Homo sapiens: one gene and its partners. The protein of the gene in region 3 purifies or fractionates together with the protein of the main gene of each other region. This does not show direct contact. Each region holds a gene or a part of one and is shown on either strand. Other genes may lie near its edges. The genes, in order: ACP6, UNG and SLC25A25.

Evidence for each region.
Region 1: the proteins of SLC25A25 (region 3) and ACP6 purify together in Homo sapiens (affinity purification with mass spectrometry; one large-scale study listed by BioGRID and IntAct). This does not show direct contact.
Region 2: the proteins of SLC25A25 (region 3) and UNG purify together in Homo sapiens (affinity purification with mass spectrometry; one large-scale study listed by BioGRID and IntAct). This does not show direct contact.

The regions. Positions count from the first base shown.
Region 1 is NC_000001.11:147,668,367-147,672,114, forward strand, and holds the start of ACP6 (lysophosphatidic acid phosphatase type 6), read right to left. Parts: upstream 2,159-3,748; 5' UTR 1,683-2,158; coding exon 1,464-1,682; exon of another isoform or gene 1,144-1,463; intron 1-1,143. UniProt on the Homo sapiens protein: Hydrolyzes lysophosphatidic acid (LPA) containing a medium length fatty acid chain to the corresponding monoacylglycerol.
Region 2 is NC_000012.12:109,103,981-109,107,628, reverse strand, and holds part of UNG (uracil-DNA glycosylase), read right to left. Parts: intron 1-3,648. UniProt on the Homo sapiens protein: Uracil-DNA glycosylase that hydrolyzes the N-glycosidic bond between uracil and deoxyribose in single- and double-stranded DNA (ssDNA and dsDNA) to release a free uracil residue and form an abasic (apurinic/apyrimidinic; AP) site.
Region 3 is NC_000009.12:128,106,232-128,109,893, forward strand, and holds the end of SLC25A25 (mitochondrial adenyl nucleotide antiporter SLC25A25), read left to right. Parts: coding exon 1-26; intron 27-121; coding exon 122-289; intron 290-797; coding exon 798-948; intron 949-1,028; coding exon 1,029-1,213; 3' UTR 1,214-3,014; downstream 3,015-3,662. UniProt on the Homo sapiens protein: Electroneutral antiporter that most probably mediates the transport of adenyl nucleotides through the inner mitochondrial membrane.

The DNA of each region.
Region 1 (3,748 bases), on a different chromosome or scaffold from region 3:
TAGGGATAAAGCCCTAAAAGAATCTAAATCTTTTCCTAGTGCCTTCAGGATATATATATATATATATATGGTACATACTAGGTCTAGGCCTACACATTCAAAGTTTTACTCTCCATTACCACTGATAATTTTTTGTCTTCTACGTGAATATAATATATATTCCTACATGTGATTCCCCAGTCCTTCTGTACCAAGAATAAATAGAGAAGAATTGGGGGAAGGGGAGCATCAGAGATGGGCTGTATACAAAATCATAAGGAAAATTTAGTGATCTAATATAAAAAGGCAAAGTAAGAGACTGAAAAAAAAATCAAAGAATCAAAATGAAAGAAGAAATCCCGGTTCCAGAGAGCAAGTGGTAAAGCCAGAGTAAGGCTAACTAGAAACCTGGTAATAGAATTAAGTGCCTTCCAAATGTATTTATTTATGTGGAAAATGCTTTAGAAGTTTAATTTCATGTGCGGCCAACCTTGAAAAATGGGTTTCCAGTTGTACAATGTAAAGACACAATCCTGAAGGTTTCTAGAAAGCAACTGTTATTATGAAGAGTATACCTAACATCAATTTTGGACAATCTTTTCGACCTCCTCCAACATCAACCTGGAAGACCAACGATACAAAAGCACTCCACAGGTGTAATACCTGGGAGTTTGGGGATTTCAGGTTGCCTGTTCCTCTTCACTAGGCCTTTCTGCTATAAAAAGTCACATCCAGGAAAGATAATCATTTTTTTTTAAACTATTTGTGCTTTAGTCATAATTATCCTGACAAAACCAGACAGATTTTTAAAACATTACTGCCACAGACTAGCCCATTTTAAATTTGTTCCGACCTCAGATCCCTCCCACTATAGGTTTAGTAACCTTAAATAGAAAAGGAGAACCCTAGAATACAACACTTGTTACAAAAAAAAACTTCAGGAGATCTCAAATGGCCTCCAGCAAACCCTGAGAAAAAGCAGTTATAAAGTTTGTTTCCAAAGGCAACGACCTCTTATCCACTGTAATCTCAGTTAAGAGTGGTTCCTATCACTAAAGTCCCTTCAGCCCTTCAGCTCTGACAAACCACCTTCAAAATGGTCACACAGAAGTGCACTGCACCCTTGTATTCAAGTTCACCTAGACCCTTAATAGAAATGCTGACCTGGGGCACTACTCCACACCTGCTGAATCAGAATCTGCAACGTAGCAGGATCCCCAGGCGACTCCCATGCGTCTTAAGCAGCGCTTACTGATGGCTGCGCCATCAGGGCAAAACTGGAAGTTCCGGGGCTGTCCTAACCCCAGCAGGTCCTTTGCTCAAGAGCCTGGGGAGTCACTGGCTACTGCTGTTTTCCCTTCTTCTGGACCCAACCCGAGCCCCGCTCCGCGCGAGTAAAGCTCTGAAGATGTGTGTCAGGGCGAGACTCCTGGCCTGGCACACGGTCCTCGCCCCACCAGCCCCAGCCCGGGCCGACCTCTCACCTGCTCCTCCAGCGGGAGCGGCTTGAGAGGACTCCGAGCCCCGTGTCGAAACACGACCTGCACCATTTTCAACTTCAGCAGGCTGCGGTCGACCGGACACTGGCCATCGGCCTCCTGCAGCTCGGCCAGGGCCACCCGCCGCTGGTGCAGGCAGTACGCCAGCGAGGTCAGGACGCCCACTGGGGTCCACAAGCGCATGCTGAACACACCAGTGATCATGGTGGTAGGCCCTCGCTGCCCTCCGGGTTGAGGCTGCAGGAGGCAAACACAAGTCTTCTGCGGGCGCCGGGGCTCAGCGGGCGCCCCCAAGTCCGCGGGAACCTGCGGATGCGTACATCCAGCCCTTCAGCAAGCAGGGACCGCTGTGCCTCCCGGCCCTGAGGGAGACCCCGAGTGGGAACGGGGGAGAGAACAAGAGGTGGCAGCAGCGAAGAGTCCCTGGGAGTTTTAACCCGGGTCGGGGTTGGTCGCTCCTGCTGCACACCGGGCCGGGGGAGATCGGATCCTTATCTTTTGCCCGACGAGGAACATTAAACTTGTATTTCAAGTTTGGCCTCCAGCACTCTTGAAGGAACAGGAGCCGGCCCTGAGTTCCCTGGCGGCAGCGGCTCCACCAGCAAGGACTACTCGATTCCACTTTTCTATAAGCAAGCTCCTACCCACCTCCTCACCTACTCAGGGACCCGTCCCAAGTGGACCCGCGCACAGGAGCACGGGAAAACGAGTCCTGTGGTGACACCTCGCCTGGAGACTCAGAGCTGCGGAAACTACAACTCCCACAAGGCTGCGCGTACCGCGGCTCCCAAGAAGTGGCTTGTACCCGCCCCCCTCGCCTGCGGGCCTCGCCCCTCCGGCCCAGCCAGCCGTTTTCCAGGCGTGGATGGCCCACGGACGTGCCTGGTCCGGCAGTGGAGTGGTAGTGAATCTGTCGGGCCATGGAGTTTGCCAGGCAGGAGGATCGCGAGCGCAGGAGTAGAACTGGGTGGTGGAGGGGAGTAGTTTGAGTCTAGTTTTGAATGTAGAAGACTTCCTTCCAGTCCTGGAAGCCTGGTTGCTGCAGCGAGGAGCTGAGACACCTGCCGAGTGATTGCCATTTGCGAAACACAGCACTAGGTGCTTTATATTTAGTCATTTACTACTCCCTTCTCTGTTTTTAAAAAAATTCTCAAGCTTAAGTCATTGTAATCATGTAGAACTTTCAGGTCACTGATGTGTTTACTTCCATCCAGAATACTTCTTGTGGAAAAAGCCAGGCCTTGCCTGTGGGTGTCCCAGTGATTAAGAACCTAAGAGGCGCCATGGCTCACGCCTGTAATCCCAGCACTTTGGGAGGCCGAGGCGGGTAGATCATGAGGTCAGGAGATCGAGACCATCCTGGCTAACACGGTGAAACCACGTCTCTACTAAAAATACAAAAAAAAAAAAAAAAAAAAATTAGCCAGGCGTGGTGGCGGGCACCTGTAGTCCCAGCTACTCAGGAGGCTGAGGCAGGAGAATGGCGTGAACCCGGGAGGCGGAGCTTGCAGTGAGCCGAGATCGCGCCACACGACTCCAGCTTGGGCAACAGCGCAAGACTCCGTCTACAAAAAAAAAACAAAAAAAAACCTAAGAACACAGAACAATGCCAGCCTTACCACCTGCTAGTCTGGTTTCTGTTGATATACAGGTATCCCAAGCCTGTGTTTCCAGATCTTTGCAACAGGACACAATCTGGGACCCACTATGTGTCTATCTCCAAAGATCAAACTGGGCCAGATGTAAAGACAACATACTTACAGAGCATGGCTCCTGGCCTGAGAACAAATTCTGTTCACCAAGCTGGAAGGTTCTGAGTGCTCCCCTCCCTGATGCAGGGAGGAGGGTCATTTTGGAACACTACATATTGTCACAATTTTCTCCCTAGCCCAGCCAAGGGACTCACTTTTCAGAGTCTTATTGTGTGTGCTGATGTGATTAAAAATCGAATACTGTTTGCTATGGACTCAGTTGTGTCCCCCGCCAAATTCGTACCCACTAAGTGACTGCATTTGGACATAGGACTTTTAGAAGGTGATTCTGTCAGAGGCATTTGAACCATAGTGACTCCATCTTGAATAGCGGCTGGGTAAAATGAGGCTGAGACCTACTGGGCTGCATTCCCAGGAGGTTAGGCATTCTCAGTCACAGGATGAGGGGGGAGGTCAGCAGGACTGGTATCACAAGAAACCAGTCAAAAAGACCCTGCTGATAAAACAGGAAGTGGTAAAGAAGCTGGCCAACACCAACCAAATGCAAGATGTTGATGG
Region 2 (3,648 bases), on a different chromosome or scaffold from region 3:
ACTTGAACCCAGGAGGGGGAGGCTGCAGTGAACTGAGATCACGCCATTGCACTCCAGCCTGGGCAACAAGAGTGAAACTGTCTCAGAAAAAAAAAAAAAAAAAAAAAAAAGAGGAATAGTCAGTGGCCAGGTGTGGTAGCTCACGCCTGTAATCCCAGCACTTTGGGAGGCCGAGGCAGGAGGATCGTTTAAGTCCAGGAGTTCAAGAGCCAGCCTGGGCAACGTGGTGAAACCCTGTCTCCACAAAAAAAAATACAAAAATTAGCCAGGTGTGGTGGCGCACGCCTGTGGTCCCTGCTACTCAGGTGACTAAGGTGGGAGGATTGCTTGAGCCTGGGAGGTTGAGGCCGCAGTGAGTTGAGATCAAGCCAGTGCATTCCAGCCTGGGTGACAGAGCTAGACCCTGTTTCAAAAGAAAAAAAGCAATAGTCATACATCACCTAATGACAGGGATGCATTCTGAGAAGTGTGTTGTTAGGCAATTTCACTGCTATCCGTACACCACAGGGCATCTTTACACAAACCCAAATGGGATAACCTACCACTACACACCTAGGCTATATAGTGTAGCTTATTGCTCCTGGTCTACAAACCTGTGTAGCATGTTACTGTACTAAATACTATAGGCAACTGTGACACAATGGTAGGCATTTGTGTATCTAAACATAGAAAAGATGCAGTAAAAATATTTTTTATATATATATATATACACATATATATATACGTATATATATATGTGTATATATATATATGTTTTTTTTTTGAGATAGAGTCTCACTCTGTTGCCAGGCTGGAGTGCAGTGGCATGATCTCAGCTAACTGCAACCTCTGCCTCCCAAGTAGCTGGGACTACAGGCACACGCCGCCACACCTGGCTAATTTTTTGTATTTTAGTAGAGACAGGGTTTCACTATGTTGCCCAGGCTGGTCTCAAACTCCTGAGCTCAGACAATCCACTCGCCTCGGCCACCCAAAGTGCTGGGATAACAGGTATGAGCCACCACACCCGGCCAGAATATTATAATCTTATGGGACCATCGTCATATATACAGTTTATGACTGAAACATCATTATGTGGCAAATGACTACTTTGATTTTTTTAAAATATCAACTATAGTTATTTTAACAGGGAGATATAGACCATTTTTGTTTTCCTCTTCTTTTCTGTATATAAAAACTAACGAACAAATCACTGTTTCTCAAAACACTCTTGCCTTCAAGGGGCTCAGTCCAGGAGGGGCGATGAGGGGTGAGGACTAAAGCCAGGCAATCCAGTGTGGTTAAGAGTACAGAGCCTGGAGCCAGACTGCCCGGGGTCGAGGCCTACCTCTACCCTCAGTAGCTGTACCACAGAGAAGTTGCTGCAACTCTAAGCTGCTTCAGTTTTCATCTGTAGACTGGGAATAACAATACCGCCCAGCTTATGAAGTTACTGTGACCAATCAAATGAGGATCACAGGGGCTGAGTGTGATAAGAAGTCATGCACACCAAATGCTGAACACACACGCAAGCAGCACAGGCCCCTGTAAATGTCAGCCCTGCAGAGCTCTAAAGAATCCCAGAAGAAAATGACCTCTACACTGTAGGCAGAGAAAGCAGGATATGCAAAGGCAGGGAAGTGGGGCACCGTGAAAAAGTAAAGGGGAATGGGTCAGCCTAGGGATCGGAGTGCAAAGAGGGATAGAGTTAAGTCTGGGAGGCCGATTGGGGGCCACCCCTCTACCCCCCTGAAATCAGATCTTCAGCCTAAGGCAAGGCCTTCCAGGGAGAAAGCATCAGAACCCTCCAGGCAAGATCAGGTGAGGGCCTGAATGAAGGCAAAGGTGGTCAGGCAGGGGTAGATTTGGAGGGGGAAGAAAGAACACAGATATGAATGACTGACTGACTGGGAAGGTGGAAAAAAAGGACAGAAGAGGGGAGAAAGAGAGGTAGGCAGGTGTCAGTAATAGATCTGGCTGGACAACTGGGCAGATGATGGTGCTTTTTGCTGCTAGGGAGTGCAGAGGAGGAAGTTTAGTGAAGCATGGATGAGAAAAGGAGAAACTTCGTTTGGAAAATGTTGAATTTGGCATGTTCATGGGGCAGTAGTAACAAGGCACTCTATAGATCAGAAGAGACACTGGGCTGGAGATATGCAATTTGGCTTTAATGACCAAGCTACTTTAACAACTGTTTACTTTCAGACCAAACCATGATTAAAGATTACCAATATACTGCGGAAGAGCAACACTGGCCGTAAACCTCCCTAAGGGATAGAGATTAGCAATTACTCTCACGCACACTTCTTACATACCTAGATGATCACATCTTAGCAGTTCATACCAGTCAGATCTTAGGTCACTCATACAAGTGTATGCCTACCTCAAAGCCTTTCTGAGAGTTAAGTAAGATTCTGCATGCAAAGTACTCAACCTGGTCGGGTGCGGTGGCTTACATCTGTAATCCTAGCACTTTGGGAGACCAAGATGGGAGGATCGCTTGAGGTCAGGAGTTCAAGACCAGCCTTGTCAACATGGTGAAACCCAGTCTCTACTAAAAATAAAAAATATTAGCTGGGTGTGGTGGCAGGCAACTGTAATCCTAGCTACTCAGGAGGCTGAGGCAGGAGAAGTGCTTGAACCCAGGAGGCGAAGTTGCAGTGAGCCGAGATCATGCCACTGCACTCCAGCCTGGGTGACAGAAAGACTCCATCTCAAAAAACAAAAGTGCTCAACCTAGTACCCACACAAGGTAGGGGTTAAATATACGTGCACATTTCTGATACCCCCGTTACCTCCTGCTGATACACCAAAAACTATTGTCAGGTTACCTCTGCTAAGCCCTTGCCTTCGATCATTGAAGCATTTACTCTATAATTTCTCCCCCACCCAATGTCTCTCCCATTTGCCAGGGATGAACACACCCCTGGCTCGTCTCCTTCCCACCCCCTATCTCTCCCTCCTCCACTCTGCGGCTCTCCATCAAGCCTCCATCTCTAGTCCATCACGGTTCTCCTGGAGAAAGATGATGGTGACTCATGCCTGAAGGGCAGCAGTGGCGAATGAGAAGCAGTAGACTGGGGTGTTTTGGGAGGCAGAGTTGATGGGATTTACTGATGGGATGGAGGATTCAAGGATGACTTTTAGGTCTCTGATTTCCACAACCAGGTGTAGAAGTGCTTCAGTGAGTGAAGGGAAAGAGGGAGGTAGCAGATAGGGGGAAGATGTAGGGAGGGGAGCCACTGGTTTGGTCGTGTTGGGTATCTGCAATTAGACCTTGGGGTTAATAATGATCACCGATAGGCCGGGTGTGGTGGCTCATGCCTGTAATCCTAGCACTTTGGAGGTTGAGGAGGACAGATCGCTTGAGGTCAGGAGTTCAAAACCAGCCTGGCCAACATGGTGAAACCCTGTCTCTACTAAAAAATAAAAAAAAATCAGCCGGGTGTGGTGGCGGGCGCCTGTAGTCCCAGCTACTCGGGAGGCTGAGGCAGAATCACTTAAACCCAGCAGGCGGAGGTTGCAGTGAGCCAAAATCATACCACTGCACTACAGCCTGGGCAACAGAGCGAGACTCCATCAAAAAACAAAAAACCCAGAAACAAAACAATAATGATCACTGATAGTATTTTCATGGGCAAGTTAAATTTGTGATTGAGTGGAATTCTT
Region 3 (3,662 bases):
CCCAGAGCAGCATCTACCCAATGGAGGTGAGGGGCCGCCTGGGTCCTGGGGCGGGCAGTGGGCACAGGACTGGGGAGAGGCACAGGCTGTGCTCACGCGTCCCGCTGCTCCTGTTGTGCAGGTCCTGAAGACCCGGATGGCGCTGCGGAAGACAGGCCAGTACTCAGGAATGCTGGACTGCGCCAGGAGGATCCTGGCCAGAGAGGGGGTGGCCGCCTTCTACAAAGGCTATGTCCCCAACATGCTGGGCATCATCCCCTATGCCGGCATCGACCTTGCAGTCTACGAGGTGAGGCCCAAGCTGGACAGATTTAGAAACCTCCTCCCAGCACACCTCCACCTGCTGTCTCCCTCCTTGACGGACGCGTGGTTAGTGCAGGAAACTGCATCAAAGACTGCGCCTCCTTCCTGCTCTTCTGTTTACTGCAGCTTTCCTTCACCCTGCCTGCCCCTGGCAGACCCCAGCAGCTCCTGTGAGCCCTGCACCCAGGCTCTGCATCCCCAGAGGCTCAGCAGGCAGATCCCCAGAGCAGGGTGGCCCCCAGGAGCTCACAGGCCCCAGCACACTCTAGACAGACCCCAGAAGTCAGCCCTTCTGTGTGGGGAAGGAGGTGTTCCCTCTACCTTGTCCCGGAATTCCCAGTGACAGCAGAAACAGGGCAGCCAGGCTAGGAGCCCAGCCAGGCCCCAGGCGCGGCAGTCGGGTTCCAGTGGCCTGAGGACCCAGTAACAGCCCCGTCTCTTGCTGCCTCACTAGCCCTTCCTAGGGCTTATCCCATGCTCCCTTCTCCTTCTAGACGCTCAAGAATGCCTGGCTGCAGCACTATGCAGTGAACAGCGCGGACCCCGGCGTGTTTGTGCTCCTGGCCTGTGGCACCATGTCCAGTACCTGTGGCCAGCTGGCCAGCTACCCCCTGGCCCTAGTCAGGACCCGGATGCAGGCGCAAGGTAAGGCTGGCCCTGGACAGTCCCCTGGGAGGTCGGGGGGAGCGGACAGAAGCATCTGACTGGTGGCCTCCATCCTGCAGCCTCTATTGAGGGCGCTCCGGAGGTGACCATGAGCAGCCTCTTCAAACATATCCTGCGGACCGAGGGGGCCTTCGGGCTGTACAGGGGGCTGGCCCCCAACTTCATGAAGGTCATCCCAGCTGTGAGCATCAGCTACGTGGTCTACGAGAACCTGAAGATCACCCTGGGCGTGCAGTCGCGGTGACGGGGGGAGGGCCGCCCGGCAGTGGACTCGCTGATCCTGGGCCGCAGCCTGGGGTGTGCAGCCATCTCATTCTGTGAATGTGCCAACACTAAGCTGTCTCGAGCCAAGCTGTGAAAACCCTAGACGCACCCGCAGGGAGGGTGGGGAGAGCTGGCAGGCCCAGGGCTTGTCCTGCTGACCCCAGCAGACCCTCCTGTTGGTTCCAGCGAAGACCACAGGCATTCCTTAGGGTCCAGGGTCAGCAGGCTCCGGGCTCACATGTGTAAGGACAGGACATTTTCTGCAGTGCCTGCCAATAGCGAGCTTGGAGCCTGGAGGCCGGCTTAGTTCTTCCATTTCACCCTTGCAGCCAGCTGTTGGCCACGGCCCCTGCCCTCTGGTCTGCCGTGCATCTCCCTGTGCCCTCTTGCTGCCTGCCTGTCTGCTGAGGTAAGGTGGGAGGAGGGCTACAGCCCACATCCCACCCCCTCGTCCAATCCCATAATCCATGATGAAAGGTGAGGTCACGTGGCCTCCCAGGCCTGACTTCCCAACCTACAGCATTGACGCCAACTTGGCTGTGAAGGAAGAGGAAAGGATCTGGCCTTGTGGTCACTGGCATCTGAGCCCTGCTGATGGCTGGGGCTCTCGGGCATGCTTGGGAGTGCAGGGGGCTCGGGCTGCCTGGCCTGGCTGCACAGAAGGCAAGTGCTGGGGCTCATGGTGCTCTGAGCTGGCCTGGACCCTGTCAGGATGGGCCCCACCTCAGAACCAAACTCACTGTCCCCACTGTGGCATGAGGGCAGTGGAGCACCATGTTTGAGGGCGAAGGGCAGAGCGTTTGTGTGTTCTGGGGAGGGAAGGAAAAGGTGTTGGAGGCCTTAATTATGGACTGTTGGGAAAAGGGTTTTGTCCAGAAGGACAAGCCGGACAAATGAGCGACTTCTGTGCTTCCAGAGGAAGACGAGGGAGCAGGAGCTTGGCTGACTGCTCAGAGTCTGTTCTGACGCCCTGGGGGTTCCTGTCCAACCCCAGCAGGGGCGCAGCGGGACCAGCCCCACATTCCACTTGTGTCACTGCTTGGAACCTATTTATTTTGTATTTATTTGAACAGAGTTATGTCCTAACTATTTTTATAGATTTGTTTAATTAATAGCTTGTCATTTTCAAGTTCATTTTTTATTCATATTTATGTTCATGGTTGATTGTACCTTCCCAAGCCCGCCCAGTGGGATGGGAGGAGGAGGAGAAGGGGGGCCTTGGGCCGCTGCAGTCACATCTGTCCAGAGAAATTCCTTTTGGGACTGGAGGCAGAAAAGCGGCCAGAAGGCAGCAGCCCTGGCTCCTTTCCTTTGGCAGGTTGGGGAAGGGCTTGCCCCCAGCCTTAGGATTTCAGGGTTTGACTGGGGGCGTGGAGAGAGAGGGAGGAACCTCAATAACCTTGAAGGTGGAATCCAGTTATTTCCTGCGCTGCGAGGGTTTCTTTATTTCACTCTTTTCTGAATGTCAAGGCAGTGAGGTGCCTCTCACTGTGAATTTGTGGTGGGCGGGGGCTGGAGGAGAGGGTGGGGGACTGGCTCCGTCCCTCCCAGCCTTCTGCTGCCCTTGCTTAACAATGCCGGCCAACTGGCGACCTCACGGTTGCACTTCCATTCCACCAGAATGACCTGATGAGGAAATCTTCAATAGGATGCAAAGATCAATGCAAAAATTGTTATATATGAACATATAACTGGAGTCGTCAAAAAGCAAATTAAGAAAGAATTGGACGTTAGAAGTTGTCATTTAAAGCAGCCTTCTAATAAAGTTGTTTCAAAGCTGATCATGGAGCCAGTATTTTTCTGACGGGGGCCTGGGTGGTCTGGGGGTGCTGACATGTTAGAAAATGCGCCCTGTTTTCCCCTCTGGAGCCTGGTGGTGCCCCCTTTCGGCTTCTTAGAGGCGCTCCCTCTTTAATGGTTGCGTGTTCGATTTGGGGTGCCCTGAGTTGCTGTGTAGGGTCGTTCCTCAGCCTGTCTCAGGCAGGGTGCGGGGGATCTCTCCCTCCGCCGGAAGTGCCATCTTCACAGACACCGAGGACGTCGCTGGGCTTCTCTCCCCTCCCCCCAGCTGCCCCTCCCAGCCTCACCCCGCTCCTGCCTCCTCACACCCTCTCAGTAACCTCATCTGACTGAGGATTACCTTCAATATCTATATTTAGATGACACTCCTTTGATACTTGAACGAATTCCAGCTTCATCAGTACAACTGTGAAATCCACATCCACTTAAACAGCACCTCGAGTTCAGCATGTCAGAAGCCGAACCCTTCATTTTCCTCCCAAAATCTGCTTCTTCATTTTCCTCATGCCAGCAAATGGCAACTCCTTTCTTCTACGAACTTAAGCCAAACACCTTGTAGTCAACCTGACTCTGTACTTCCCTCTGGTTCCAGGGCAGTCCACCAGCAAATACCGTCAGCCCCACCCGCA